Regions from separate parts of the Homo sapiens genome. Here region 2 is linked to region 1. Evidence: fine-mapped expression QTL. Tissue or cell type: tibial nerve. Region 1 holds a variant in brackets; the other region holds the start of a gene. All regions are shown on one strand. Distances are from middle to middle. Region 1 overlaps LOC124906097 (a long non-coding RNA gene). Region 2 holds the start of GPR155 (G protein-coupled receptor 155).

Evidence for each region.
Region 2: it holds the start of GPR155, and the variant in region 1 is fine-mapped to the expression of GPR155 in tibial nerve (GTEx, PIP above 0.99). The same link has a PIP of 0.9 or more in esophagus muscle.

Annotation. Positions count from the first base shown.
Region 1 is chr2:174,509,728-174,526,182 of GRCh38, forward strand. It overlaps LOC124906097 (a long non-coding RNA gene), which reads right to left. Exons shown (of 3, transcript XR_007087309.1): 3 at 11,496-13,269. LOC124906096 (a long non-coding RNA gene) reads left to right here and starts at 13,690. Exons shown (of 4, transcript XR_007087308.1): 1 at 13,690-13,946. The variant C/A (reference allele first, on the strand shown) is at 10,074.
Region 2 is chr2:174,477,256-174,493,710 of GRCh38, forward strand. It overlaps GPR155 (G protein-coupled receptor 155), which reads right to left and starts at 9,774. Exons shown (of 16, transcript NM_152529.7): 1 at 9,618-9,774; 2 at 4,242-4,732. The coding sequence starts at 4,701. It overlaps GPR155-DT (GPR155 divergent transcript), which reads left to right and starts at 10,133. Exons shown (of 3, transcript NR_183819.1): 1 at 10,133-10,161; 2 at 10,780-11,659; 3 at 11,753-15,547. RefSeq lists silencers at 9,289-9,471, 9,735-9,914 and enhancers at 9,325-9,394, 12,565-12,664.

The DNA of each region.
Region 1 (16,455 bases):
CACCTTGGCATCCCAAAGTGCTGGGATTACAGGCGTGAGCCACCACACCTGGCCAACATCACAATCTCTTAACAGCAGAATTGATCAAGCAGAAGAAAGAATTAGTGAGCTTGAAGATAGGCTATTTGAAAATACACAGTTTGAGGAGACAAAAGAAAAATGAATAAAATAGAATGAAGCATACCTACAAGATTTAGAAAATAGCCTCAAAAGGGCAAATCTAAACTACTGGCCTTAAAGAGGAGGTAAAAAGAGAGATTAGGGTAGAAGTTTATTCAAAAGGATAATAAGAGAGCTTCCCAAACTTAGAGAAAGATATCAATATTCAAATACAAGAAGGTTATAGAGCACCAAGCAGATTTAACCCAAACAAAATTGCCTCAAGGCAATTACTAATCAAACTCCCAAAGGTCAAGGATAAAGAGAGGATCCAAAAAGCAGCAAAAGAAAAGAAACATACAAAGAAGCTCCAATATGTTTGCAGCAGACTTCTCAGTGGAAACCTCACAGGGCAAGAGAGAGTGGCATGACATAATAAAGCTGCTGAAGGAGAATGCAACATTTAAAACTTCCTATAATTCAATTTTATTAAGAGTAAATCAACACTTTAAAAAAATCTTGGGCTGGGCGCAGTGGCTTACGCCTGTAATCCCAGCATTTTGGGAGGCCCAGGCAGGTGAATCATGCGAAGTCAGGAGTTTGAGACCAGCCTGGCCAACATGGTGAAACCCCATCTCTAATTAGCCAGGCGTGATGGTGCATGACTGTAGTCCCAGCTACTCAGGAGGCCAAGGCAGGAGAATCACTTGAACCAGGAGGCAGAGGTTGCAGTGAGCTGAGATCACACCACTGCATTCCAGCCTGGGCTACAGAGTGCAACTCCATCTCAGGAAAAAAAAAAGAAAGAAAATATGTTGTTCTAATCAATTATTTAGTGTCTTAGTGTGTTTTTAATATCAAAGCCCAATCTCTAGAAAGATGATTATAATTTCCTTTTAATTATAGACACCTTAATCACATACAAAATTTCTTTCATAAGTTCTCCTTTTGTGAACCTTAACGTGACTTACACAGACCATTTATGACTTGCTTGGACTTTCTGTTTTGTCCTAAGCATCCCTCTTTTTAAAATAACCAGTCATTTTACCATTTACCAGGGTAAAAGGAGGCATGTCCAAACTTGCCTTTCCCATCATGGCCTGAAGTAGTCTCTCAGGTTTCTTTGGGATCCTGTTGGCCAAGAGAGAGGCCTGTTTAGCCAACTGGGGGGCTTAGAATTTTATTTTGGTTTACAACCTCCACTCAACTAACCCCTGAGTTACAGTTGCTCTGTAAGGCCCATGTGACATTCTACTTACAGTTCACAGCTCTCTCCTGGGCTTACAGGTGAGGCTTAGGTCACAGGCACATGCTAACTTCTGGCAAAAAATGCAGAGGGCCACTGAGGGTGCCCCACGGTGTGATGACTACTCCTGACTGATCTGGTCTGTGTGCTGTAAACTCCTGAGGTTTATCGGCCAGAGAAGGAACGCTGGCCGCTGGCCACAGTTCATTTAATTCATTTTATTTTATTTTTTTTTTTTTTGAGAAGAAGTTTCGCTCTTGTCGCCCAGGCTGGAGTGCAGTGACGCGATCCTGGCTCACTGCAACTTCCACCTCCTGAGTTCAAGCAATTCTCCTGTCTCAGTCTCTCCTGTAGCTGGGATTACAGGCACCCACTGCCACGCCCAGCTGATTTTTGTATTTTTTTGTAGTAGAGATGGGGTTTCACCATGTTGGCCAGGCTGGTCTTGAACTCCTGACCTCAGGTGATCCACCCACCTCAGCCTCCCCAAGTGCTGGGATTACAGGCGTGAGCCACTGTGCCCGGCCCATTTAATTAATTCTATCAGTGGGAACGAAGGTAAATTCCGTGTTCTTCCTCATAATAAGGTCTCATAGTGTCTTTATATATGTTTTTAGTGTTTTTACCCTTTAACTGTTAACTTTTGCATTTAACTAAACCTACAAAGCAACCCAAAAAGCCCAAAGTCCAAGATTTATCTCTGATCACTTCCTGGACTTTCCACACTTACTAGAGAACAAAGCTCACTCCTGCTTTTCCTCCATCTGCCTTGTCAGTATTGCCAAGAATTTTAGTTTTGTTTCTTAAAAGAACACATAAGAATTCAATTCTCTCAAGTTTTAAAAACATATTACCCTCATATTGCTACTCATTTCTGTGCCTGCTGCTCTTTCCTGAGTCTGACTCCTTCCCCCCGGGCTCTGGGAGTGGTGAGGACGTACACAGGCTTCAAAGCCAGGCTGCCTGGTGTAGAGCCTTGACTGCCACTTTACAGCTGTGTGATCTTGGATAAGTAACTCAACCTTTCTGTGCTTCAGTTTTCTTTTGTGTAAAATCAGGGTAATTATAGTAGCTCCCTCAAGATTGCTGTGAGAATTAAATGACTTTTGGGCTTTGAACACTATCTTTGCATATAGTAAGTATTCAATAAGTGTTTGCTGTTATTATTATTTTTCTATACTATGTCCTTTTCATCAATGGTCTTTCAGTTATAGTTCTCAGGTGCTTTTAAATGATAGTTTATGTGGGTACAGATTTTTAGGTTGATGGTTATTTATCATCAGCACTAACTTCCATTATTACCGGTTGTCCTCTGGCACTTGTTTTTGGCGATGAAAAGTCAGGGGTCCATCTAATCATCATTCCTTTGTAAGCAATCTCTACTTTCTTTCTGGGAGCTTTAAGAGTTTTCCTCTTCAGCTTTGATTTTCTGTTGTTCCATCGTAATGTGTAGGTGTAAGTTTACTTTCACTTTTCCTGCTCTGTACCTCCTGTTACTTTTAATCTGAAGGATTCTGCCTTTGTCAAAGTCTATCAGTGTATTAGCTATTATCTCTTCAAATAGCACTTCTCTTCCATTTCCTTTGTTCACTTCTGGGACTCCTGTTTGAAGTAGTTTGGAACCTCTCCACATATTGTCTGTGTCTCTCAATGGCTATTTTCATATTGGATAATATTATCATATTTAATATTCACTATTAGCACAGTTAGGATAATAAAGAAGTGGGTCGTTATATTTGAAGAGTGTCCAGGAAGTTATGTTTTCAAAATTATCTCATAAAAATCATCATCTGCCTGATACTGCTCTTGTCTAATATAGGGCTGCCATTACAAAGGAAAAGATGTCTGACTCAAGCATTCAGTTGATTCTGTTTGCCTTACGTTTGGTTCAGTGATAGGTTATCCCTAAATCATGAAGACCTCTGGCCAACTCCCATAGTCCTCTTCTCTCTCTCTTTTAATAGATGAGGAAACTAAGGCCAAACAGTTCATCGACTTCCGGAGAGACACGTCTGTAAATCTTATTCCCCTCTAGGGCCAGCATGTTTTCATCTTCTCCTTTGCGGCCACCTGAGACCAAACTAGCACCATCTCTCACCTGGACCACTGCAGTTAACTGTTCTTCTACACCCATTTTTGTTCTTTATTTCCACCCACATGGGTCAGTGAAGCCAGAGTGACCTCTTAAAAATAAAAATCTGATCATGATTTCCCCTCCTAAAACTCTTTTTTTAAAAAATAGACTACTTTTTAGAGCCAGTTTTAGGTTCATAGCAAAATTGCCTAGATGTTCCACAGTTTACTTATTCATTCACTTACTGAAGGACATCATGGTTGCTTCCAAGTTTTAGCAACTATGAATAAACCTGCTATAAACATCAGTGTGCAGGTTTCTGTAAGGACGTAAGTTTTCAACTCCTTTAGGTGAATACCAAGGAGCACAACTGCTGGATTGTTTGGTAACAGGATGTTTAGCTTTGTAGAAAACGACTAAACCATCTTCCAAAGTAGCTGTATCATTTTGCATTTCTACTAGCAATGAATGGAGAGATCCTGTTGCTGAACATCCTCATCAGCATTTGGTGCTGTCAGTGTTTCAAATTTTTTTGTTAGTATTAACATGGTATGTCTTTCTCCATCTGTTACTTTTAATATTTACATGTCTTTATATTCAAAGTGGGTTTCTTATAGACAACATATTGATAAGTCTTTTATGAACCACCTTGACAATCACTGTCTTTTAATTGGTATATTTAGGCCATTGATGTTAAAGTGATCATTGATATAGTCTGATGGACATCTACCATATTTGTTACTGTTTTCTATTTGTTAAGCTTATTTCTTTTCTTCTCTTTCTTTCCATGCCCCTTGCCAGCGGGGATCTATTTTTTGTCTGTCATTCTTTTTCTGCCTTTTATGGTTTTAAATAAGCCTTTTATGTTATTCCATTTTCTCTTATTTTTTGGCTATACTTCTTTTGTCACTTCTTTATAGTGATTGCTCTAGAGTTTACATTATACTTTTACAACTAATCCAAGCCAACTTCCAAATAACCCTATACCATTTCACAGGTAGAGTGAGTATCATATAAGAGCAAAATAATCCTAATTCCTCCCTCCCGATCTTTACATAATTGCTGTCATTTATTTCACATATATAAGTACATATAGACTATGATATATATGTAATATATAATGTGCATATATGTATAATATACCGAACATATACATAAGCATACACAATTGAATGCATTATTTCTGTTATTATTTTGAATGAACTGTTACCTGTTAGGTCAATTAAGAATAAGAAAAATAAAAGTTGGGTGGGCATGGTGGCTCACACCTGTAATCCCAGGACTTTGGGAGGCCAAGGCAGGCAGATCACCCGAAGTCGGGAGTTTGAGACCAGCCTGATCAACATGGAGAAACCCCGTCTCTACCAAAAATACAAAATTAGCCGGGTGTGGTGGCGGGTGCCTGTAGTCCCAGCTACTTGGGAGGCTGAGGCAGGAGAATCGCTTGAACCTGGGAGGTGGGGGTTGTGGGGAGCCGAGATTGCACCATTGCAGTCCAGCCTGGGCAACAAGAGCAAAACTCCATCTCAAAAAAAAAAAAAAAAAAAGAAAGAAAGAAAGAAAGGAAGGAAGGAAGGAAGAAAGAAAGAAAAATTTTTTTTTTTGAGATGGAGTCTCGCTCTGTCACCCAGCCTGGAGGGCAGTGGTGCAATACCTGCTCACTGCAGTCTCCACCTCCCGGGTTCAAGTGATTCTATGCCTTAGCCTCCCAAGTAGCTGGGATTACAGGCATGTGTCACCACACCTGGCTATTTTTTGTCTTTTTAGTAGAGACAAGGTTTCACCCTGTTGGCCAGGCTGGTCTCGAACTCCTGGCCTCAAGTGATCCACCTGCCTTGGCCTCTGAAAGTGCTGGAATTACAGGCATGAGCCACTGTGCCTGGCCTCTCCTTCACTTTTGAAGGATAATTTTTCTGGTTGCAGAATCTTGGGTTGGTGGTCTTTTTCTCTCAACACTTTAAATATTGCACTCCACTATCTTTTTGCTTGCATAATTTCTGATTAGAGTTGGATATAATTCTTATCTTTGGTCTTCTGTAGGTAAGAATATTTTTCCCTCTGGCTTTTTTAGAATTTTTCTTTCCTTTGATTACCTGTAATATAAAAATGATATGGTGGCCGGGCATGGTGGCTCACGCCTGTAATCCCAGCACTTTGGGAGGCCAAGGCGTCACAAAGTCAGGAGTTCAAGACCAGCCTGGCCAAGATGGTGAAACTCCGTCTCTACTAAAAATACAAAAATTAGCCAGGCGTGGTGGCGGGAGGCTACTTGGGAGGCTGACGCAGAGAATTGCTTGAACCCAGGAGGCAGAGTTTGCATTGAGCCGAGATCGGGCCACTGCACTCCAGCCTGGGTGACAGAGCGAGACTCTGTCTCAAAAAAAAAAAAAAAAATGATATGGCAAGGAGTGATTTTTTGCCCTTATCCTCTTTGGGGTTTTCCAAGCTTTCTAGATCTGTGGTTTGGTATCAGACATTAATTGGGGGAAATTATCAGATATTGTTTTTTCAAATATTTCTTCTGTTCTTTTCTGTCTTTCTTCTCATTTTAGTATTCCCATTATGAGTTTGTTATACCTTTCGTAGTTGTCCCAGTTCTTGGATATTTTGTACTGTTTTGGGGTTTTTTTTTTCAGTCTTTGTTCTCTTTGCTTTTCAGTTTTAGAGGTTTCTACTGACGTAGTCTCAAGTTCAGAAATTCTTTCCTCAGCCATGTCCAATCTGCTAACAAGCCCCACAAAGACATTCTTTATTTCTGTCACAGTGTTTTGAAAATCTCTAACATTTCTTTTTTTTTTTTTTTTTTTTTGAGACAGAGTCTCGCTCTGTTGCCCACGCTGGAGTGCAATGGGGTGATTTTAGCTCACTGCAACCTCTGCCTCCTGGATTAAAGTGATTCTCCTGCCTCAGTCTCCCAAGTAGCTGGGATTACAGGCGTGTGCCACCACGCCCGGCTAATTTTTGTATTTTTAGTAGAGATGGGGTTTCACCATTTTGGCCCGGCTGGTCTTGAACTCCTGACCTCAGGTGATCCACCCTACTTGGCCTCCCAAAGTGTTGGGATTACAGGTATGAGCCACCGTGCCTGGCCTGTTTTTGTTTATTTTAGGATTTCTGTCTCTGCTTACATTGTCCATCTGTTCTTGCACACTGCCTGCTTTATTCAGTAGAGCCCTTAGCATGTGAATTATTGTTATTTGAAATTCCCTCTCTGGTAACTTCAACATTCCTGTGGTGCCTGTTTCTTCAAACTGTGTTTTTTGCCTTTTAGTATGCCTTGTAATTTTTTCGTGATAGCCAAGCATGGTGTATTGGGTAGAAAGAAGTTATAAACAGGCTTTTAGTGATGAGGTGGTGAGGTGTGGTGGGGAAAGGAAGCTATATTTCTTAAGTTTTTCTCTTTGTCTCTTATCTAACGAGGACATGCTGGTCACATTGATATAGTTTAGACTTCCAAATGAATTCTCCCCTTCCAGTGACTCAGGCTGTCCCTCTTCTCCTTCTCACTGCCATCTCATATGCTATCACTTTGTGCCTAGTCTCCTGTCTGCTCCAGCTCCCTTCAGCATTTCCTCATTTCATGTGATTTCGCTGTGACAATGAAATACTTTCAATTTCAAGGGATAGATAACTCAGACAAATGTAAGCAATGGAAGTGATTTATTGGCTAAAAAGTCCAAGGTATGATAGGCTTCAGGGGAGGTTTAATTTAGTTGTTCAGCCATGTTATACAAGACCTGCCTTCTTTACCTTTCTCTTCTCTGTCTTCAGTCTTGTCAACTTCATTCTAGATCTTGCTTCTCTCAGAGTGGCAAAATGAATCTAGAGATTCAGGTTTCATATCCCTATACCATTCTGCCCAGAAGAGGAGAGAGTGTCCTCTGTGGTGGCTCTCAGAAAAGTAAGAAAGTGTCTTTCTAGAAGCCCCAGTGAACATCCTTTGCATGTTACTAGACAACATTTGCCAGATGCCCTTCCTGAATCAACATCTGTGCCTGCGAAAGAGCATGCACTAGTTGGCTTAGGTCTGGGTTGTATGAACCAATACTGTGGAAAGAGAGATAGGATAACCTGATGGACTTCGACTCATACAGCTGGGAGTGCAATCAGATTCTCCTTAAACATGTGAGAGAAGTAGGCATCTGATGGAAAACCTGGACAGAGTGTGGACCAAGGACAGGGAAAATGGATGCCAAGTAGCTAAAAATGCCCACTACCCTTGTACGTGGTTACTTCAAAAATCCTAATAAAACACCATTTTTATTTTATTGCTCTACTGCTCTAGCCCAAAGGCCAAGTCCAATCTGCCAGTGTTTTTGTTGTTGTTGTTGTTTATTTTTTTTATTTTTCGAGATGGGTTCTCCTTCTACCACCCAGGCTGGAGTGCAGTGGTGTGATCGTAGCTCACCATAACCTCAAACTCCTGGCCACAAGGGATCCTCCCACCTCAGCCTCCTGAGTCACTGGGACTGCAGGCATGAGCCACCATGCCCCACAGCCACCTGTTTTCTTTCTTCTTCTTCTTTTTTTCTTGAGATGGAGTCTCATTCTGTCACCCAGGCTGGAGTGCAGTGGCGCGATTTCAGCTCACTGCAACCTCTGCTTCCTAGGTTCAAGCGATTCTCCTGCCTCAGCCTCCCGAGTAGCTGGGACTACAGGCAAGTGCCACCACGCCTGGCTAATTTTTTGTATTTTTACTAGAGATGGGGAGATGGGGTTTTACCGGGTTAGCCAGGCTGGTCTCAATCTCCTGACCTAGTGATCCGCCTGCCTCAGCCTCCCAAAGTGCTGGGATTACAGACATGAGCCACCACACCCAGCCTATCTGTTTTCATTAGTAGCTTTATTGAAACAGCCATGCTTATTTTCAAAGTTTTGTGTATGGCTGCCTTCACACTACAATGAAAAAGTTGAGAGTTGAGATGAAGATTGCATAGTCTTCCAAACGAAAAATATCTACCACCTAGCCCTTTTCAGAAAAAGCTTACAGATCCCTGGCATAAAAGAGTAAATTTATTTTGTTTTATTTACGTATTTATTTTTGAGACAGGGTGTTGCTCTGTTGCCAAGGCTGGAATGCAGTGGTGTGATCTTGGCTCACTGAAACCTCTGCCTTCCAGATTCAAGTGATTCTTGTGTCTCACCCTCCCAAGTAGCTGGGATTATAGGTGAATGCCACCACGCCCAGCTAATTTTTGTATTTTTTGTAGAGTTGAGGTTTCACCATGTTGGCCAGGCTGGTCTTGAACTCCTGACCTCAAGTGATCCCCCTGCCTCAGCCTCCCAAAGTGCTGGGATTACAGGCCTGAGCCACTGCACCCAGCCTAAAAGATTAAATCTAAACTCCTCCTGGATTTCAGTCCTCTATCATCTATCCTCACTTTACTGACCTAATTTTATTGGCATTATTTACTGTATCTAAGCTCTCTAATCTGATCAAATCAGTTTACTCATCCACCCTAAATATTGCACAATCATTGTCCACTTTTCTCTTTTCTTTCGTTCATGCCTAATCCACCCTGGAATGCTCTCCTGTCTCATGTATCTTCAAAGGCCCATCTGAAGTCCATGGAGCCTTCCTTGTTACCTTTATCGGCACAGAGGCCTTCTTTCCTACCTTTATTGCCTCTATCAATCACACACTAAGGCATTCTGAGTCTGTATATATTTTATAAATATGTCATATGTATACCATCTTTTTTGTTCAATTTAATGTAAACCTCCTGAATATTAGTCTTAGTGATATAATATTTTCTATAAGGTATTCCCTTATAGAATTTCAAGTAACGGTGGACCAAGAAAAGGCACTTAACTAATAATTACTAGTCCTGTCAAACTCTACCTCACACATATCTAGAATTAGCCCACTTCTCTCCAGCTCACTAACTACTTGATTCTGAGCCCCATTTACTCTCATCTGGCCTGTGCTAGCCTCCCAGATGCACCCTACCCGCTTTGCCCCACTGCAGTTTTTTCCCACGTAGCAGGTGGACCCACTAAATGTTTAAATCAGCAGGTGTTACTCTCCTGCTTAAGATTCTCTACCGGGTGCGGTGGCTCACACCTGTAATCCCAGCGCTTTGGGACGCTGAGGCGGGCGGATCACCTGAGGTCAGGAATTTGAGACCAGCCTGGCTAACATGGTGAAACCCCATCGCTACTAAAAACACAAAAATTAGCCGGGCGTGCTGGTGCATGCCTGTAGTCCCAGCTACTCGGGAGGCTGAGGCAGGAGAATCACTTGAACTCGGGAGGCGGAAGTTGCAGTGAGCCGAGATGGCGCCATCGCATTCCAGCCTGGGGGACAAGAACGAGACTTCGTCTTAAAAAAAAAAAAAGATTCTCCACTTCTGTGATGTGTCTTAGAAAGTAAGTCATGAACTGTCTCTGCCTACATCTTCCAGTTTATCTCCTTCTGCTTGTCAATGGTCCCTCTGCTGCAGTTTCTCTCTGCTCCCTCTGCCTGGAATGCCCTTCCCTCAGCTCAAGAATGTCTGACTCCTCATGATTATTGGGTCTCAGCTCTCTTCTCCTTGCCTGACCACCAATCTGAACGGGCTCCCCACTTCCTGTCCATCATGTTAGGTCACATCATCCGGCTTTGCTCTCCTCTTGGCTCTGATCTCAACCCCAATATGTCTTGTTTACTGTTAA[C/A]CCTCTGAGTACAAGCCCTCTGAGATTAGTGAGTCTGTCCCATTGGTTCACCCCTGTATTTCCAGGTCCTAGAATGTCCCAGCACATAAGAGGGACTCAATAGCTCTTTGTGGCATAAATGAACTAAACCATTCATAGATTTATTCTCTTTTGAAATAAAAAGGAATACACTGTCACAAAATGTATTCACTGTCACAAAATGCATTTGCCATGTGCCTATTCTCATGGTTTCACTTCTTAGGGTTTTGCCAAAGAATCTGCTCTTAGGGGTTGCATTAGGTTCACTGTCACAAAAATGCATTTGTATTCACAGTCACAAAAATGCATTTACCATGTGCTTATTCTCATGGTTTTACTTCTTAGGGTTTTGCCAAAAAATCTGCTCTTAGGGGTTGCATTAGGTTCCAATGGCTGCTATAACCAAGTGGCACAAAATGAGTAGCTTAAAACAACAGAAATGTATTCTGTCACCATTCAGGAGGCCAGAAGTCCCAAATCAAAGTGTGGGTAAGCTTAGTTCCTCCTAGAAGCTCCGAGGGAGAAACCTCCTCATGCCTCTTTCTTAGCTTTTGGCGACCCGGCAATCCTTGGTGTTCCTTGCCTGGTGGGTGCATTGCTCCAATCTCTGCCTCCGTCTTCACATCACTTGCTTCTCTGTGTGTCTCTGTGCTTGCTGTTTTGACTCTTATAAAGACAATCATTAGATTTACGGTCCACTCTAATCCAGTGAGGTCTCGTCTTGATCCTTAACTAATAACATCAGCAGTAACTCTATTTCTATACAAAGTTGCATTCTGAGGTTCTGCATGGATATGCACTTTTCAGAGACACTACTTGCCCCACGCTAGAGCTTTAGAATACAACACAGAAACTTACAATCTACTCTTGCTGTAATGTAATGCACATACGTTGTTTTTTCGGTGGCCAGCAACCAAGAGCACCCTTCCCAGGAGTACCCCAATTTCCTATTGCATCTTCCAGTTGGAGGACAGTCTTGATCGGAATGTAACTCAATATTTCTCATCTCCTCTCTGCAACCAAGGAGCTACATGTGACCCAAAGTAAGACAACTGGACTCCTGGGATAACTTCTTTTCCCAAATGTATGCTATTTTATGTTTTGGCAAACTTTCAAGAGAGCTTTCATTCCATACTAAATTTCCTTTTTTTTTTAGAGAGAGAAGATCTCTGTCAGTCACTCAGACTGGAGTACAGTGGTGCGATCACCACTCACTGTATGCAGTTTTGAACTCCCTGGCTCAAGCAATCCTCCCACCTTAGCCTCCCAAGTAGCTGGTACTACAGATGTGCACCACCACGCCTGGCTAACTTATTTATTTATTTATCTGTAGAGACACTGTCTCACTATGTTGCCCAGGCTGGTCTCGAATTCCTGGACTCAAGTGATTCTCTTGCCTTGGCCTCCCAAAGTGCTGGGATTACAGGCATGAGCCACTGCACCTGGTCTCACATATTTTTAGTACTATAAATCTGTGAATGCCCAGCAAACATCAAGCAGACTGTACTCTTGGAACTTTTCATCTTGAGTGGAGGCGCATAAGGAATGGGAAAATATTGGAACACATATACTGGAGGAGCAGCACCCAGATAAGATCCTTCAGTTGTTCATGCTGCCTGGACTCCAGGAATTGCCTTCATTCCTGTCTTGTGTCCTGATTTGGCTCTCCAGCCTCCCATCTATCCTGAGTTCCTAGCTAGCACCCTGTTAAAAGTCTCTTTTTGCTTCTGTTAGTCAGAATCCATTTCCATCATTTGCATCCAAAGACATTCAACTATTACACCGAGATCCAAGATTTTTTTCAGCACTGTCGCTGTTTTGCATATTTAGCTCTGAGTTCTGACATGCTGAGTTTACTACTATATGAGATACTACCTTCAAAATGTCAATTTCATCCAAACCCACACATTAGTGCAATTACAAGACAGTACATTAGCATTATTATTAATTTATTTATAACCCAGCTTGTTCCAAAAGGATTTCATTGTGTTAAATTATCCTACAGAGGTATGGCAAGAAAAAAAACATTTAAAATAAGGAACAAAAATGAAACAAAGGAAGAATAAGAGGTAGAAAAGTGAGATGAAGCCACAAGAGAACCTAATCCATAAAAATGGTTACTGCCAAGGCTAGACAATAGGTAGGGGAAAGATGCAGTATCGTGAAAAGGTCTGCAGGCTACAGTTGTTGCCATGGTATTTGGCAACAATATTTTCTATTTTTCATAGTTCCTTCTCAACCTGAATTTCTGTTAAAAGCTTGCAATCTCTCGACATTGAAATGGGACCATGAGATAATTAAGCAGTTGCCAAATGGGAACTAACTGAATAACAGAAAAGAATACATTTGCTTAAAGTCTTTACGTTATTACTTTAAAGATGGTAAAAACCCTGAGATATCTGCTTTAATCTTCATCTCTCTTTCTTTCTCTTTCTTTTGTTTTTTTTGGTTAATATTAGTCAAAACCTGGAAGCTGCAGTGCCTTATTTCAAGTTATGATTTTTTAAATTTTGCTTTTCACAATAGATGGACCTTGAAAAATTTATTCTGTTATCTGTTTTTACAAATTCAAACACTCTAAATGGAAGACAGAAACTATTTAAAAGAAGATTTATAGTCAATCTTTTTGCAAACCAGGCATTACATTTTTACTTATTATTTTAGCGATGTGGGGTTTTCACATGTTATAGAAATGTCAGTTCCCGTCTTGCAGTTTTTATCAAGAAAGCAAAGCTCAGATTTTAAATGCAAATACTGCATAAAGATATTGCTCATACATAGTAACATAGTAAACACAATCATGCTGATCTTCATTATTGTAATGACGATTTTCCCATTTTAATATTTATTGCATTTTTTTTTCTATCAAACCTTTTTCAAAAAGGATCGGAGGCAACTGTGGAATACATCACAAGTGCCACCTAGTGCTTCCTTTGAAAATAATGCTTTTTTTTTTTGGTCTTCAGAAATAGGAACAAAACAAGATGTAGAACACCCATGCTCGTAGGCTGGATCTTGCTTAAGTAGTTCTGCTTCCTAAAAATGAGTGCATTTGTTTTCAGCCAAAACATATGTTGAAAGAAGAATTTGGAAGTGAGTTTCCTTGACTGTGCTCAGACCTCCCAATACTGCTTGGTTTTAATTCTACATAGGTAGACATGGCATTAAGTAAAGGATGCTAAAGAAAGGAAACATAAAATAAGGAATTTCATTAAACAAGAAGTAGCAGTAATTATTTCAAAAAGTATTTTTTCCATCTCCCAGTAGGAGTTGGCATCTTACTAAGTTTGATTTCCATCATCATCATCATCATTATTATTATTTTTTGAGACTGAGTCTCGCTCTGTCACCCAGGCTGGAGTGCAGTTGCGCAATCTTGGCTCACTGCAACCTCCACCTCCCGGGTTTAAGCAATTCTCCCGCCTCAGCCTCCTGAGTAGCTGGGATTACAGGTGCCCACCACCATGCCCGGCTAATTTTTGTATTTTTGTAGGGACGGGGTTTCACCATGTTGGCCAGGCTGGTCTTGAACTCCTGACCTCAGGTGTTCCACCTGCCTCAGCCTCCCAAAGTGCTGGGATTACAGGTGTGAGCCACTGCACCCGGCCCCATCATCATTATGCCCCAAATGACTCCTCTTCCCCATTTTCCCCATCTATAAAGCACTGTGACATCATCATCACCACCACCACCATCAACCACACGCATCAGCTGAGTGCCTATGGTGGTAGGCCTCAGAGCTGGTTGTCAATAAAACACACTCAGGCTTTAGGCTCTGCCTTCAAGGAGCCTAAAATTAACCTGTGAAGAGGAAGAGGAAAAGAAGAAGGAGGAGGACAAGAATGAGGCTGAAAAGTATGTGTACAATGATCAAACAGCAATACTAGATAAAAGCTTTCACCATTTTCCTGGTTCACAGACCAGAAAACTTTGGAACCATCCCCTCTCCTCTATCCAATCCTGGTACTTGGGTCCTATAGCATCCTCCTTTGGAATGCCTTCCTGATTTGTTTTTTCCTTCCCTATTGTGGGTTTACTCCTCCACCTCATACCTGGAAAATGGCAACAGACATACCACTTGGCCTCCTTCCTCTCCTACTGCCAGGCTACCTTGCCTAAAATGCTGCCTTTAACTTTTCATTCTCTTCCTTAAGAACAAGTTGTGGCTCTCTGGTGCTTCTCAGACCACGGGTACACATCTCAGAGCCTAATTTTGAAGATCTTTCCTAATCTACACAGACTTTATTCAATTTGATGAGCCATTACACTGCAACACTAAATTTTTACTCCTAGAGAGCAGGTCTCTCTTTACATTGGAAGCAAGGGGGCACATTATGCTTTCATTTCCTTTTTAAAAAATTATGTTTTTGTTTTGTTTTGTTTTTTCTTTTCTCTTGAGATGGAGTCTCCCTCTGTTGCCCAGACTGCAGTGCAGTGGCACAATCTCAGCTCACTGCAACCTCCACCTCATGGGTTCAAGCAGTTCCCCCACCTCAGTCTCCTGAGTAGCTGAGACCACAGGTGCCCGCCATCATGCCCAGCTAATTTTTGAATTTTTTTAGTAGAGACGGGGTTTCGCCATGTTGGCCAGGATGGTTTCAAACTCCTGACCTCAAGTGATCTGCCCACCTTGGCCTCCCAAAGTGCTGGGATTACAGACGTGAGCCACCACTTCTGGCCAATGGTTTTTTTTTTTTCTTGTGGTATTTCTAGCTGCCTTTTTTTTTTTTTTTGCACCTCTTGTGTCATTTGCCTTTATAATATATTCAACCTTTTTTCAGTTACTTCATTTTATTACTTAAAACCATTCCCCTCCTCCATGTACACTTTTTTCACTGGTGACTTTCCTCCTGCGGCGTCACCTTCTCCTCCAATCTCTACTGGTTACTCTTTCATCTTGCCTCATAGCAAGTCACATTGCAACTTCCCTTTCCTGTTTTTTGGGTTTGTTTCACTGTTTTCTGGATCACTGGTCTTCCCCTTTCTTCATTTTCTCCTTGTTTTGCTGCAGAATATTTTTAAGCAATTTCCCAAAAATGGGCACATGGGAGGTAATTGCTTCAAGTCCTTGCATGTGTGGAAAAGTGTCTTTATTCCACCTTCACACTTAATTGTGCTTGCCTGGCCACACTATTGCAGTTCATAATCATGTTACCAATAACAGTAGCTATTTCCTCGTTGTGTTTTAGTACCTTTTTGTCTTAGTCCGATTGTGCTGTTATAACAAAATATCATAGACTGGGTAATTTATAAAGAACAGAAATGTACTTTCTCACAGTTCTAAAGGCTGGAAGTCCACAGTCAGGGTGCTGGCAGGTTCAGTTGTCTGGTGAGGGCTGTCCTCTGTTTCCAAGATGACTCTTATTGCTGCATCCTCCAGTGGGAAGGAACGCTGTGTCCTCTCATGGCAGAAGACAGAAGGGCAAGAGAGCTGAAAGCTGCCTGAAGCCTGTTTTATAACGGCCTTCATCCCATTTGTGAGGGAGAAGCCCTCATGGTCTAACCACCTCTTAAAAACCCCACCTCTTAAGAGTATCACATTGACCAACAAGGTTTAATCTAACATCTGAATTTTGGAGGGGACACATTCAAACCATAGCACAGTGTTGCTGATGAGAAGTCCAATGTCAGTCTGACTCTTGTTCTTTGTAACATGGAAGATAAATTGTTCCAATTGCACTGCTGTCAAGTTAAATCCTAACAACCCATTTCCCATTTCTAAAATTGAGACTCACAGGTCACACTGTGCTTTTAGTGCTAACTAATGACATATCAGAGTCTGGCTCTGAAAATACAGAACTTCATAATTTAAAAAAATGTCTAATAAAGAGGTGAAAAAGATATTTCTTCTCCATAGCAACTAGAGAGAGGGAGAGAAAGAGATCGTTTCATAGCTTAAAACTTTGTAAAAGAATCTGATGAGGTAAGATGTTAAATGTGAACTCTCACAAGACATCAGTCTTATTTCCAGTGTGATATAAAGTCTTGCACAAATATTCCCAACTTCTACCCACTTTTTCTGTTTTAAGTAAATTTATCATTGAAATTATTATTGAACAAAGAAGTCCTGTAGATGCTAGAAATTTTAGAAATTGTTGCCATATAGCGTAAGCATGACCTTCAACAACATTAGTAATTCTGGCTCATAGTCTTACTTGTTGGTTTGTTGCCTTGGTGATAATGTAGTTGATGCCTATGTTCCCAGTGATATAAACATTAACAGGGTTTCTCAGTCAAATCAAAAAGAGGATTGGCTTTCTCTCCTTTTTCCTATTTGCATAATGGACAAATAAAAGTCTATTCTGCTAGAGTCTTCAACACAAAAAAAAGTTTAAGGTCTTGTCCTAGTTACATCTCCACAGAG
Region 2 (16,455 bases), 32 kb before region 1:
CTAAATCAAGCTAATTAAAATATGCATAATCTCACATATTTATCATTTTTTCTGATGAGAACACAAAATCTATTCTCAGCAATTTTCAAGAATATGTTGTTATTAACCATCGTCACCATGTTATACAATAAATCTAATGGAAATTTTGTAACTTTTTTTACATTTTACACATTATGAATATTTATAAAGCAGGTTACTATTGAGGTATTTTAAGTCAGCTGAACAAGCATAGAGGCAGAAGAAGTGTAGTCTAGAGGGAACACACAGAAAAATTGTGATTAAATAAATACATGTTAAATTACTAGAATAGGGTTCAACATGGGAATTTCAGTCTACTTTCTGCCATTCATTTGCATAATTAACATTACATCTTTATCTATAAATTGGCAGTGCTTTTTTTTTGCTATCAATCTGAAGATGGTTTTTAAAACCTGAAAAAATATACATGAAAGCAGTACGGTATAGTATAGTAACTAAAATTAGGTTTACAATCATTATATCAACTTTTAGGTTCTAATTAATTAATGCTTATAAATAAGGCTCTTGGAGGGCAGGGAGAATCCCATTATGAGGAGTTATTATATAGCTTTGAAGAACTAAGAGACAAAATTAGCCACCCACTGTGCTTCCTATTTTGATTCCTGCAGGGTTTCAATCCCTAGCATATAACACAAAGACCCAGATAAAATCATTCTATTATGTAATGGCATATAGTTAAATGCTTCATTTCCTTTCTGTTTACAGCTCAAGCACTAGACCATAATTATGATTAGTCAGAGTACTTATGCTATCAGCATTGTTTGAAGAATAAATTATAGGACTTAACTATGCTCTATTAGTATCTTTTAATGACAGGCAGGGAACCATTCTGATATGCTGAAATCAACATTTTGCCACGGGAGATTCTTAGTTTCTTCTCATACTTGGATTTTTAAAAGTACTTTAGAAAAGAATTGCTCTAAAACACAGTGAGCTTCTTTTATTTTTATTTTTTGAGAGACAGGGTCTCACTGTCACCCAGGCTGGAGTACAGTAGCCATCTGCGGCCTTGAACTCCTAGGCTCAACAGATCTCCTGGCTCAGCCTCCCAGGTAGCTGGAACTACAGGCTTGTACCACACCTGGCTAATTTTGCTGTTGTTGTTGTAGAGACAGGGTTTTCACTATGTTGTCCAGGATGGTCTCAAACTCCTGGACTTAAGGAATCCCTCTGTCTCAGCCTTCCAAAATGTTGGGATTACAGGCATGAGCCACCATGTCCAGCCTTCTTTTTTAGTTGCAACATGCACTATTCTGTTACTGGAGTAATAATACATCATTTTAATGTAATGTCATAGACTGTTATAGTTGTCATAGTATGTAGCGAAAGAAAACGTAACTATCTTTTTTCTTTGTTCATTAACTTATATGTCTTCTCCTTGCCAGCATTTCCTGTGTTACCTGTAAATTGGACAGATGTGGAACAAATGCAGTCTTAAAAAGGACATTTCTTATAACCCATGATCGATGCTTGTCTGTGAGCAAGAGAGTGGGAATTCCTTGGAGAGGCCAGGAAACAAAAGACAGAAAGGTCTTCTCTCTGGGGACAGTATTCTTTCTCTGTTCACCGAGAACAAGGCCAGAAGGCAGATGGGCACAGCAGCAGTAATAAGTTACCTCATCAGGCAGCAGATACTCACCCCTAATAGTTCTACATCACACCTTCCAACGTCTAGATATATGAAAAAGCACTCGTCTAATATATTGGTTTTTAGCAAAGTTATATTCTACAACTTAATATTACAAGAGCTTTTGTTATTGTGATTTAAAAAAACAAAAACATAAAAACAAAAATTATACCTCGAAATCAACAAACAACCATCAGGGAAATTTGGGCTGGCACACGGCTAGAAACATAATTATTACCAGATTCACTGACTTAATGTGGGACATAAGAAAAGCAGTGATAAAATGGCTGATTACATTTTTTATTTGGAAAGTCTGCCTCAATATGACAATAGATTAACTATTCTAATAGGTCTTTTTCCACTACTACTCATTTTATGGAATATTTTAGAGGAAAAAAACCCTTTCATTTTTTCTGGAACTAGTATATTACAAGGCTGGTTGGGTCTTCTGAAAATTGAACTGGCACATTATGTAACTGCATGGCATAAGAGAGTGCCCAGGATTTGCAACCAGAAGACCTAGGTTTGGGTGTCAGTCACCTGCTAGTTGTATGACCTGGGATAAAATAATTAAATCTCTGTAAGCCAGTTTCCTTATTTGAAAATGAGGATAAAAATATCTGCCCTACCCAAATGAGATAAGTATATAAGAAAGTACTCTGTAAACTACATAGTTATAAATGTTAGTTCTATTTCATTATCGGCTCACTAATCTATGGGAGCATGAAACTATATACTTCTAGTTTATGTCTAAAGATACATAATATTTGTCAGATATTTAACACTGTGGTGCCGAGTCAGTTCTAAGGTCCTTATACCATAAATACCTTGAGAAATTTACCTTATTAATTCTCCTGAGGAAATGGACAAACATGTTAACTCCTTGCTGTTTTCTTTCCAAAAGTCTTTATTTCCTTTTGAAATTCAATAACCTTAAAGGAACACCTATCTAGTTTCTGACTATTTGTAGCTCAATTATCTATGAGCCCAGTTTTTCCTGTCTCTTAAACCTCCAGCTTTACTGACAGTTATTTAACTTCTTAGGTGTTTCTCTCTTTCTGGTAACAAGATAGAGGAAAGTCAAAAGTAGAGACAGAAGTGAAAAGTATAGTTAAATAGAATCTTTTTGGTACCAGCAGTGAAATAAGTTGGGGTTTGAGGGGAAAGGATAAAACTGCTAGGTAAGAAACTTGAAAGTTAATTGTAGATTTCAATTGTATCCTTCAATAGGCTCAAGTCTCTGCTCAGAAGACATATCATCAGAGAGGCCTTCATTGACCACCCTACCTCAAATAGCACCTCCACATTCCTATCCTTCTACGTGACTTTATTTTTATGGCCCTTGTCACCACCTGACATGATTTTAATTTTATTATTCTCCCATTACAATGTAAATTTAATATGTGCAATAACTTTGTTCACAGCTATAATCCCAACAGTCAGCACAGCCACTGGTACGAAACAGTTCCTTATGAGTGAGTGAATGAATGAATGAATGAATATATCTATAATATTCAAGTCCTCATACTTGATAGATGATCAAAGTATATATAACTTTAATTTAAAATATAAAAAAGTAATTTAAAATATACATTTTCTTGGTGACAGAGTGTTCTGAAATATAGAATGTTTCCTTTCAAGATATGTCAATATCCCAAACTGGTACGTTTACTGTTTCATTAGTAAAACATATACACATAGAAACATAAAATTAGGCTGCTGAAAGAGTCAGAAACATAAAAAAGGAAAAGTTAGAAAGGTAAAAAAGCTCTCACCATTTTTTTTCTTAAACAAGAAATTAACTGCAACTAAAATACATTAAAATTTTGAATAACAAGCTCAAAAACAATTTTTTTTTTTAAATTTGAGACAGGGTCTCACTCTGTCACCCAGGCTGGAGTACAGTGGTATAATATTGACCCACTGCAACCTCTGCCTCCTGGGCTCAAGCAATCCTCCTGCCTCAGCCTCTTGGGTAGCTGGGACTACAGCCTTGTGCCACCACAGCTGACTAATTTTTTGTTGTTGTTATTTTTTTATACAGACGAGGTTTCACCCTGTTGCCCAGGCTGGTCTCGAACTCCTAGGCTCAAGTGATCTGCCCCCCTCGGCCTCCCAAAGTGCTGGGATTATAGGTGTGAGCCACATCTGGCCCCAGAACAATTTCTGATATAAAATAATACATATTCTAGATGGTAGGAAAAATAAATTCCTTTCACAAACACTTAATAATAACTATTTTTATATAGACATAAATCTACTTTTTTAACATAATTTAAATCACAATTGGATCCTTTCTAAAAATTAAGCTTCTTTCATATGTGCTTACCGGGAAGAAAAAAATACAATTAGGACTGTTCACAGTGGTTATTAGAATATGACCGTTTATTTTAGGTAGATGTTTAAAGGATCCTCAAACTCTGAAGTTTAGGAAAAACTATGATTCATCCTAAGACATATTTGAGAAAAAAATGAAAAACTTCTTAGATATGAGAGTAAGAATCTGTTACTAACAAATGCCTAAATAAATTAAAATTGAATTTTTTAAACACTTGAAAAATAAAAATTAACTTACCTATAGGGTATCCCAATGCAAAGTCATTACTTTGTGTAGCAAAAATAGGGAATAGTCCAGCTTTGCTAAATCGACTATCAGGACTGGCAACCAATAAGGTTAATACACATACAATGAAAAATACAGAAGCTTTGGCAATTAAGATACTATATAGGAAGGACCAGTCCACATTGGAAAAATTAAGTACAACCATGTTTTTGAATAATAAAGCTGGAAGTGCAAATCTGGAGACAAAATTTCCTAGTCCTTTGGCCTGGGTTGATGTTATGACATTGGCCCTTCCTGCTATGTAGCCACAAAGGACAATGCCAAAGCATTCCAGTAAGGCTGGAAAAAGCCTTGTAATTGACATTGAAGGTGGGTCATTAGTGGAATTAAATCCATGCGTTACTGCTGTAGGCAAAGTCTTGGTCATATTGACTGCAATGGTTAAGTTCTCTGCAGGTAAATTAGAATTCATTTTCTCTCACCCTCCAACTCCAACCAGATCTCTGGAAAGAAAGGAAGAAAGATTCAGTATGGCCATCAACAAGAATTCTAGTTGAAATAATACACTGGCAAACCTAGATTTGTTTACTTATTAAATGGCCAAATAAATATACATACCCCTAGATTTATTTACTTATTCAATGGCCAAATAAATATACATACCATCAGGGAAAATACAATGGAAAAAAAAGTGGGGGGTTGCTAACAATAATCGCTTCACTCTCAAAGGCAGGTCAGCTCAAAATATTTATGTTGCTAAGTTCTATACTCAGTATTAGACATGAGTAAAATAAGATCCGCAAATATTAGAGCTGCAGTGATGCCCTGTGGTTCTCTCCAGTGATTCTCTCCATCAATTGAGCTCCGCCTGGTGGATAAGGGCATCGGGCACACATAGTCTCCGCTGAATGTCCCCATGCATCCAAATTCTCTGGAAATTTCAGAAGTTCTCAAGGCTACATTGAGGAGTCACCCAGGGACCAGAGTCCTTTCCAGCCCGTGGTCATATTTGAATATAGGATGGGAAGAAGGGTATAGTAGAGCACTACTAATCAACTTTAAACCAATAACTTTTTTTTCTAAAGACAGGGTCTTGCTCTGTCTCCCAGGCTGGAGTGCAGTGGTGCAATCTCAGCTCAGTGCAACCTCTGTCTCCTGGGTTCAAGCGATTCGTGTGCCACCACGCCCGGCTAATTTTTGTATTTTTGTAGCGACATGTTGCTTAGGCTGGTTTTGAACTCCTGACCTCAGGTGATCTGCCTGCCTCAGCATCCCACAGTGCTGGGATTACAGGCATGAGCCACTGTGCCCGACCTGAACGAATTAACTTTAACTTTTCTGTGTCTCACCTTCTTCACCTGTAAAATGGCAATAATAGTAATACCTACCACATGGGAACTTGCGATTATTCCACTGAAGTCTTTATAATCACATCTGGAACAGAGTAATTACTTAACGGAAGTTAAATATAACTTTTGGTAGAACATGAGAGAGAGAAAAAAATGACGACCTCCCACCAATATACCTTTAGCTCCTTCTACACCCGCCACACACACTGGCCCCAGGGACTTTGTGCCACAGGGACTTTGCACATTCAGTTCACTCAAGTGTCACGGAAGCAGGGACTATGCATGTTTTTGCTCAATGTTGTGTCCTTAACATCTAGGACAGTACCTGGCATACACGAGACAGAAAAAAAAATTTTTTTTAATGAATAACTATAATTACTTATACTTAAACCTTTTACCCTTTCATGGATCAATGTTCTCTTTCAGGCACTATTTAGTTTACAGACAGAATTTTTTTTTGTTTTCTGAATGATAAAGTATTATAAGTTTTCCACTACAGCAACAGAACCAAGAACACAAAATATGTCTAAAGGTGTTCATGAAATGTTAAAAAATACAAAATGTTTTGTAAAATGTTCTAAAGAGGTTCAGAAAATGCTAAAGCATGGAACAAATTCAAAACACGAATAGTACAATAATTATCAGACCCCCTCTTGCTGCCAGGAACACAATGAACATGAGGTCTGGATAACTCTAAAGCTAATCAGCTTTTATTAGTATCTTGAAATTAAAATGACGACAATTGCCAATTTCTTTTTCTTTTTTTTTCAGATGGAGTTTTGTTCTTGTTGCCCAGGCTGGAGTGTAATGGCGTGATTGCGGCTCACCTCAACCTCCGCCTCCCAGGTTCAAGAGATTCTCCTGCCTTAGCCTTCCCGAGTAGCTGGGATTACAGGCATGCACCACCATGCCTGGCTAATTTTGAATTTTTAGTAGAGACGGGGTTTCTCCATGTTGGTCAGGTTCGTCTCAAACTCCCAACCTCAGGTGATCTGCCCGCCTCGGCCTCCCAAAATGCTGGGATTATAGGTGTGAGCCACCACGCCCAGCCAACAATAGCCAATTTCTAAGTGATTATTCTGGGTTTACCATCTAAAGTAGACTGATATAAGGTAGAAAGTAAAAAGCTCATGCTTCCAGAAATTTACAATGCTCAGGTTAAGTCCTCAAACATCTATATCACATTAAAAAGACTTAGATGGCAGCCCAGAGATCACCAACAACTGATAGCTGGCGTGGGTACAAGGGAATTTTCTCTGTGCTACCCTTGTATAAACCGAACCATTTGAAAACCTTATATTTAATCTGGATTAGGACAAGTATTTTCCTACTAGGATTAGATAGCAGTGGTCAATATAGTACATGAAACCTACACTACTCACATACTTGAAGTTTACCAAATAAGCATCAAATTATATCTTGGGAAAGCTACCGGTTGGTACAGATACACATACTTGAAGTAAGGAGCTGGTAAACAATTAAACAAAGGCGTTAAACATTTGGAGCCCTTAAGACGGTGTGTACTTGGAAAGGCAGTGCTAAACAGGAAAGTGATAAATTAATCCAGTCTTCTGTTCACTTTCAAAAGTGCCTAGAGTATTAATAACTCATTCTGCTTATAAGCCCTTACTTGTACAACACGAGCATGTCAAGGCATTCCAATAATATTTTTTAACCAACAGTTTAAACTAGCAGAAGTTCAGTGGAGAGTCAAACAGATTCTGAGCTTTATGGTTTATCAACTCATAAGTTACTTAGTCTTTCTGAACCTTTGTTTCCTCAACTGTAAAATGAGAGTAAAAACCTCCCTATAGGGATCAGTCATAGCAGCTCACGCCTGTAATCCCAGCATTTTGAGAGGCCCAGGCAGGTGGACTGTGTGAGCCCAGGAGTTTCAGACCAGCCTGGCCAACATGGCAAAACCTTAGTCTCTACAAAAAATTAGCTGAGCTTAGTCATGCGTGCCTGTTGTCCCAGCTACCTGGGAGGCTGAGGTGGGAGGATCACCTGAGCCTAGGAGGTCTCTGCAGTGAGCCATGATCACACCACTGCACTCCAGCCTGAGTAAGACCCTGTCTCAAACAAAGACCTCCTTAGAGGGATATTGTGTGGATAGAATATTTTATATACAGCTTATCACAGAGTAGGCCTTCAAAAAACGGCAGCAATTGCTATTAGGAACTGTTGTCTTACTACTAATAATGATAAAAAAGTAAACATGTTAGTTCTTCAAACATAACTGGTAAAAGATCCACCAACTAAAAAAAGAGGGATGGGATGCGTCATAAATTTATCAGTTTTTGTTTTATACCAAACAATTAAGATAAGTTGAATTTAATTTGGTTTGATAGTAAATGGTTAACAGTGAAGGCAGAGCTCTTCATTTTTCTCAGGGTGATGGTCAAATAGTTGTAGCAATGTCCAAGATTAACTTTCAATTCGTTGAAAAATTAAAAAACAAAAAAACAAAACAAAAAAAAGGGCCGGGCGCAGTGGCTCACGCCTGTAATCCCAGCACTCTGGGAGGTCGAGGCGGGCGGATCACCTGAGGTCGGGAGTTGGAGACCAGCCTGGCCAGCATGGTGAAACCCTGTCTCTACTAAAAAGACAAAAATTAGCCGGGCTTGGTGGCAGATGCCTGTAATCCCAGCTACTCGGGAAGCTGAGGCAGGAGAATCTCTTGCACCCGGGAGGCAGAGGTTGCAGTGAGCCGAGATCCTGCCATTGCCCTCCAGCCTGAGCAACAGAGCAAGACTCCGTCTCAAGAAAAAAAAAAAAAAAAAGCAATCTGCCCCTCCCCATGAGGTTTCTTTTAACGTTTCTCAGTATTATAAAAGAAATACCTGCTGAGGTAAAGTCAAAATAATCAAAATGACTTTAAAAGTTTCATTTCATCCTAATCTTTTTTAAACGGGAAGATAATATGCTTTCTAAAGCATATTTTAAAATGAACAGGAACCACAGCAAGGGAAGTTTTAAAAAAAAAATTACATCCAGCCTTTTTATCTATAAAAACAAAGCTTGTTACAGAACAAACACGTTCACAGTAAAAGACCACTCGCTGAGGCACGAACTGAAGAAATGCTACTGTACTTACAAACCGCTTCTAGCCACATCACATTTGGCTTAGATCACATAAACGAACCACTGATACTGTAAATAACTGCTATTAAGTGAAAATGCGGGGGGAAGGCGAGGGTTGACTAACTTCATAGAGAAAGCTTTAAACTCTCAGGCTATTTCTCAAACATCCAACATCCTTTATCCCGTGGGATAAGTGTAATACAGTGTGGTACTATTAGAGCACTCTTCAACATTAATAGTCGCACCATTCACCCACTCCTACCTACTTGCAGGGCGCCAAATGTCCTCCCTAGAGACCCAGGGTAGGGAGCGCTGAGCACTGCCTCCTTGCCTCGTCTGCAGGGACAGACTGTGGCCCTCCAAGATAAGGGGCGCAGAGAGTTCCTAACCGAATAGGCTGCTCGGAGAGCAGCTGCCAGCCAACCCCTGGGAAGGCAGCTGTGGAAGTGGAAAGGCAGCCAGGGGTCTTTGCCTGGCGTAAGAAAAAGGTGGTCGCTAGTCTTCCCAGGGCACGGGAGTCACAACGTCATGGTAACTAACATACCCCAAAAACGGGTAAGGGAGAAAATTTGGCGCAGTGCTCCAGGTGCCTGGGCAGAAGCCTTCGGAAGGGCCAGATACTGAGGGTACCCTCGGGATAAAGGGAAGAGTCTAAGAAAGACAGGGTGGACGCCCGTGCAGTGAGGAGCTTCCCAAACTAGGGATGGCAGTTCTGTCTCCGGAGGGGACGAGACACCCCCTCCCCCGCGCGAGCCTTCCCGGGTGATCTCACACGTTCCACAGGCAGGCGCTGCGGGGCAGAGACAGCAGGTCCAGACAACGGGCCGCGGGGCCAGGGCGCAGAGGGTCGGCGGCTGCCCACGTGCCCAGGCCTGAGGGGCAGAGGCAGGGGTACCCCGTGCCCGCAAGGGAGAACCAGGACCCAGCAGGTCCGCGCTCCAGGGGCCCCTCTCACCTGCTTCGTCTGCAACCTTGGAGTGGCGAGGAGAAGGGAGCTGGTGCTCGCAGGGTGCCAAGCAGGGAGAAGACCACCGTCATCTCCCGCCCCCAGCCCTCTTCGCCGAGCGCAACCGGGTGCCAGCTGCAGCAGCTTAGGCACGTTCCGATAAAGTAAGGTGGGGTAAGCCGATGCGGCCCTGTCAGCTCAGCCCCTCGCCGGCCGCGAGGCCCCGCCCCCGCCCCGCCTTCAGGCCCCGCTCCCTCCCAGCCCCGCCTTCAGACCCCGCCCCCAGCCCCGAACTTCCAGCAAGACGGGCCGCTTCCCGCCCTCGAGCCCCGCCCATTTCCAGGAGCCTTGAGCCCAGAGTCTCCGTCCCGCCCTCAGGCCCCACCCACAGCCTCGGGCCTCCGAGCCACACGTTCCCCAACCCCGCCTTCAGTCCCCGCCCCCTCCTCCAGCCTCGGAGCCCCAGGGTACCCGGCCCCGCCCTGCCGGCTGGGAGCCTCCCAGCCGCGATCCTCCGGGGCGGGACTTCCGGCTTCCCTGCTCCCACAAAATGGTAGCCGCCGTGGGGGATGTCCAGTTTTTTTTCCTCTTCCCAAGTACAGACGCAGAGCAGACTTGTCTTTCCGCTTAACCTCAACCTCGTGTGATCTGCCAGTTTCGCTCCCGGTTAGCCCAGGACTTTTTATAGCATAGAGTTTTAAAGCAAGGGCTTAGAATCAGACCTGGGTCAAAATCCTGCCTTCCACCTTCACCAAGGCAGTGTGACCTTGACGTTCCTACATAAGAGATTAAAATGTAAACCCTTAGCCCTGAGCTTGTTTTAGAATCTGGGCCCCGTCCATGACTGCTTCTATTCTATTGCGGTACGGGGGTGGGGTGGGGGTGGGGAACTACATGCATGTCCACTCAGTATACTGAAACTGGTTACATTGATGGAAAACTTCCAAAGCTTCTTGAAATAAAGGTATTGAAACTATCCTCACAGGGTTTATAAGAATTCTGGACAAAAATATAATTAAGCATTAATCAGGCTACACTTTGACCCACTTCCTTGTAACCCGAAAGTCGGGTAGAGCTAGATAGTACATTTGTATCCCGTTGTCCCTATAGATAGGCTTTCTGATGTTAAGAGTCGTAAGGCTTTTTAAGAATTGCTTAAAATGTTTTTCAGACGCCAAATTCCAGCGAAACAGCTGATGCCAGCCAGCTTGAAGACCCCTGCCACAGAAGAAGGGAATCAGCATGAGAATACAGCTTCTTCATCTCGCTGTCCCATGACTTCGCCCTGTACTCTTCAGCCAATTAATGATCTCCACACTTGGGACCACTCTAAAACCCTTAAGAACCTGAGACTCAAAGTCCTCCTGGAGACGAATTTGAGGTTTCCTCCTATCTGTGTTTGGTGGCCCTATGATTAAACCTCTTTCTCTTCTGCAACCTGGTGTCCCAGTGTATTAACTTGCCATGGGCATCAGACAACAAACCTATATATAGTATCCCAAATATGGTGCTCCACTTTGAAACCTGAAGAAATCCTGCAATTGAGTTAGCCTTTTGAAATAAAAATTATTTCAAATTTTAAAATATTTATATATGTTTCCACTTAAGATATCTACAAGCATTTGTTTACAACCTTTTATCTTGCTTTGCATCTTAAACATTTCTGTATGGCAATTTCCGTGTCTTCCTATCATCTCGGCCATCTTAGTGCAAAGATACAAAATTGTGTGGCTTATTAAGAAAAATTACAGTAAGCTAAGGGTAGGTTAAAGGATCTGAAACTTAGCAGGAAAAATGAGCAGAAATTAAAGCTATAAAAGGCATGGATCCTGCTCCAGTTCTCTTTGCTTCTCCTTTGTTCTCTGTCTTCCTCACTTTTAACTGCCTTCTTTGTTTCCCTTGAACCTGACTACTTAAAAAAAAAATTGAAGATCTAAATTATCTCAAGGCTAAAAGGATTTTTGTTTAGGAAGTATGAAGATTAATTCAATTAAATAAATACTTATTGAGCATTGACTATCAGGGGAATACTGGAAGATAGGCCTGCAGAGGTAAGTTACGGTCAACCTGTAGGAGGTTCCTTGGGTTAGTTTGAACCTTATCCTTTGGCCACAGTAAAACATGTAACTTTTCTTTCCCCACAGGAACATGTCAGAATGATCACACTATTTGTGGGTGTGTAATCTGGAAGCTGTACCATGATTAGTTGAAAGAGAGACTGAAGGCAAGAAAAACAGTGTGGTGACTTGGAGAAGAACCAAGACATAAGGAAATGAAGACCTACTCTTGGGTGATGACAGTAAAAATAATGGAATAGGCCTGAGAGACAGGAAAAGGGAGAACTGATGAGACTCAGTTACTGATAGGGCTAAAGAGGAGGAAGGACAGGGCAAGGTGGCTCACGCCTGTAATCCCAGCACTTTGGGAGGCAAGGCAGGAAGATCACTTGAGCCCAGGAATTCAAGACCAGCCTGAGCAACATGACAAAACCCCATCTCTACAAAAAATACAAAAATTAGGCTGGGCGCAGTGGCCCAGGCCTGTAATCCCAGCACTTTGGGAGGCCGAGGTGGGTGGATCACCTGAGGTCAGGAGTTCGAGACCAGCCTGGCCAACATGGTGAAACCCCATCTCTACTAAAAATACAAAAATTAGCCGGGCGTGGTGGTGTGCGCCTGTAATCCCAGCTACTTGGGAGGCTGAGACAGGAGAATCGCTTGAACCCGGGAGGCAGAGGTTGCAGTGAGCTGAGATCGTGCCATTGCACTCCAGCCTGGTGACAGAGCAAAACTTGGTCTTTAAAAAAAAAAAAAATTAGCGGGGTGTGGTGGCACACACCTGTGGTTCCAGCAACCCAGGCAGCTGAGATGAGAAGATTGCTTGAGCCCAGGAGGCGAAGGCTGCAGTGAGCCAAGATCGCACCACTGCACTCCACCCAGAGCAACAGAGTGAGACCCTGTCTGAAAACGACAAAAAAAAAAGAGAGAGAGAGAGAAGGAAGGATTTAACAAGCTTATGTATTTCCTCATCCATTAAAATAAAGAAAAGAAATTGAGCTAGAGAGCTTCTAGTATCCTGTCCAGCCATAAAATTTCGTTGTTTTCTATTATTCTGTTACCTGAAAATGAAAGGAAGAACTATTTCAGTGGGAGAAGCAGTTTCAAGGAGAAAATAATGAATGTGGTTTTAGACCTCAAATCTAAAACCTTGAGAAATTTTCTAGTTCAGTTTTCTCTCTTGAAGTTATCATCCTCTCCATCTGAGACTCTAGGAGATTAAGCAGTTGGTCTAAGAACACTCAACTAGTCCATGACAGAGAATGAGAATAAAAGCCCCCCCGTCCTGTAAACAAACTTCTCATAAAGGCATCAGCACATGTATGTAGAGATTTCCGGTAGACCCCTAGGGAGAAAACAGAAAAGAGAGAGAAAGAGCAGAAATAAAGATATGGTTTGAGAAGACATCCGTACAGAATTGATGAAGTTTCTTGTGGAAACCTCATTGGTGAGGTTTCCTTCCACAGAGCAGCTTGTGGAAGGAAACTCTAAGAACAAAATGTAAACAAAGATGAAAGACTTCATTAAAAAGTCACCCTCAGAGAAGTAGTTACCAATGAACGCCACGAGAAACTAACTTAATTCCACTGCCATATCTGCTAATCATTCTGTGAGATGCTGACTTATTCTATACTATTAACTGGAAAAAATGAAGAAAAGCTAAAAGTAATGCAGAATAATGGAGGGAAAACTGTAAATTAATCATAACTTTCATTTACAAATAAGTGGGACCTATAAACTTCAAGCACACTGATATCCCGATTTCCCTCAAGTCCCGCTGATCAAAATTGACAGGAGAAACAAACCAAATGGTTTGATACAATGACAAAGGTCATGTAGGATATATGTTGAGGCAATATGATGTACATGTGGATTCCTGGTGAATTTTATCTTTTCCAAAATGAAGTACTTCTAATGTTTCTTTCTATGAAAGTAATAACAATGATAACATATTCAGATAATACAGAAAGGAATGAAGAAAGTGAAAATCATACCTATGGATAACTTCTTTAATATTATACCATATATGTATCATTTTATGCAAATATAGATTATTTAAGAAAAATAGGATTATACATATGATTTTCATACACATGATTTTAGTCACTTCTCATTTAGTAATACCTTTTTAATCCATAAACAATTTATTCATATAGATAGATTTATATCATTTTTAATGCCTATTAAATACTCCCTAGCGAAATTTTGAGGATGATCTTCTTCGAAAAAGTGGAAACTGGGCCATCTATAAAGTCTAATCAAAGTTGAGTAAAGCATAGAAAAATAAAAGAGAGTGACTTAAAATGTGCTGTTTGAACATGTCTAGTACGATGCCAGATTTTGTTTAAAAACTTTTAGTTTCTTTAAAACTCCCCTTCCCCTTCCCAATAGCATCATTTTCTCTTTAGGGATTCATGTTTCCAGAGAAGTTGACTTCACTCTCCCTTCAGAGATGATGTAACTAATGTAGGCTGTCCAATCAGTGTATTTCATCCCTTTGCACTTAATGATTAGTCAGGGTAGGCACTGATCCTGAAGTAGCTCAGCTGAATAATTTTCAGGACTTTTGCAGAGAATGCTGATCTTCTCTTTCTTGCTAGACAAGAGGAAGATGCCGACAGCCATTTTAGAACCATAAGAGAAGCCAGTCTTAGAATGGTGCAGAGACCAAGGTAGCCACAGCAGAGAGAAGGAAATAAACAGGGACCTTGATGACATATTGAGTTGTGGGGTCAAGCCCCACCTAAAGCAGCCTCACCGGTTGGCCTGTGGACTCTTCATTGATGTGTACCAATCAGTTTTCTTCATTGTTTAAACAAGTTTGAGTTGGGTTTTCTATTACTTAAAATCAAATGCATAGGAAAAATGCTAAAGGAAAATGCAACAGTAATTATCTCTGAGTGGTAAGAATACACATGATTTAAATTTTTTTTTTCTGTGCAGAAAAGTTTCCCTTTTTCTTGATAAAATTAATATACAAAGTATGTATTTTGGCTATATGAAAATCTTCTAAAACAAATTTTAAAACGATGATCGTTTATTAAACCAGGAATATATATGAAATCCACCCATAAAATAGAATGATTTAAGAGCATGGATATGATGCAGCCTATGACCTTAGAGAAGACAAAGGCCTTGCTTTTGTTGATCTTTGTATTCTCAGCATTTAGAATAGTGCTTTCCCTGACATATGGCAGGCATTCTGTAAATGGTTTTTGAATGATTTAATAAAACATAATTGCCTATCAGCTATCTAGGAAGTTGGATTGTAACTATGGGAAGTATTTGATACAAGCAACTGTGACATAGATCTTTTACAGTAACTGGATTTCTTGTTTCCAGCTTTTCACTTGGCCAAGTTTTATAGCTTTATTTAAATATTCCCCCTGGCTAGACACAGTGGCTCACACCTATAATCCCAGCACTTTGGAAGGCTGAGGTGGACAGATCATGTGAAGCCAGGCTGGCCAACAGGGTGAAACCCTGTCTCCACTAAAAATGCAAAAATTAGCTGGGTGTGATGGCGCGTGCCTGTAATCCCAGCTACTTGAGAGGCTGAGGCAGGCGAATTGCTTGAACCGGGGAGGCGAAGGTTGCAGTGAGCCAAGATCACGCCACTGCACTCCAGTCTGGGCGACAGAGCAAGACTTCATCTCAAATAAATAAATAAATAAATATTCCGCCAAATTGTTGACTCCTTTTTGTGATTGTAAATGCTAGAATTAAATAATTATTTCTGATCTGTCAAGTTAAAACCCTGAGTATTATCTTTTAATATACATATATATGTTTATGTGTGCATAAATATACGATAGCTTTTTTTTTCTTTCGATCTGCTACTGAAATATTCTCACAAAAGCAATAAAGTGGAACCTAAACATCTCACGTGGCTATTGATCTTGTTATTGACCCCAAGAAAGGCTCAAATGTGATTAAATGGGCAGAGGCTTTTGTCTAGGCCAGCACTTAAGAAGTTAAGCAGAGGCCGGGCGCGGTGGCTCACGCCTGTAATCCCAGCACTTTGGGAGGCCAAGGCAGACGGATCACTGAGGTCAGGAGTTCAAGACCAGCCTGGCCAACATGGTAAAACCCTGTCTCTACTAAAAATACAAAAATTAGCCAGGTGCAGTGGAACGCGCCTATAATCCCAGGTACTGGGGAGGCTGAGGCAGGAGAACTGCTTCAACTTGGGACACGGAGGTTGTGGTGAGCCCAGATCATGCCACTGCACTCCAGCTCGGGGGCCACAGAGCAAGACTCTGTCTAAAAAAAAAAAATGTTAAGCAGAAAAACAATGAAACCAGAACTAGCTTATGAAACTGAAAGTTAAATCGATGACTTACGTAAGATAGGCTGCAGAAATCATACAATAGAAGCATGGTAACTTTGGGGGCCGCACCAGTCTGTTTCAAGACTTAGCTTCTTGATACTTGTGGTTTTGTTTTGACCACTTTTTTTTTGAAAGGAGTTAGAGATCAGGAACATGAAGATGAAAAACAAAAAAATACACTTGTTCCTACTTCTGAATTGTTCATTTAAAAGTGGGCTCACTAACAAATTTATTTAATAGGCAGCCTTTAAAGAAATAATATTTTAACTGTGCAGAGCACTTTCTAATTTGAATAATGCCTAAGTTGAAAAACTAAAACTAACCAACATTGTAAAACACAAGCAGGAAGTGGAGAAATCTCAGATTTTAACCTTGACTTTAGATTAAGAATGTTTTTAGCTGATTCTAGTTAAAACATTTTCGAGTAAATAGCTAGCTCAAAAAAAGGCTATCACATCCT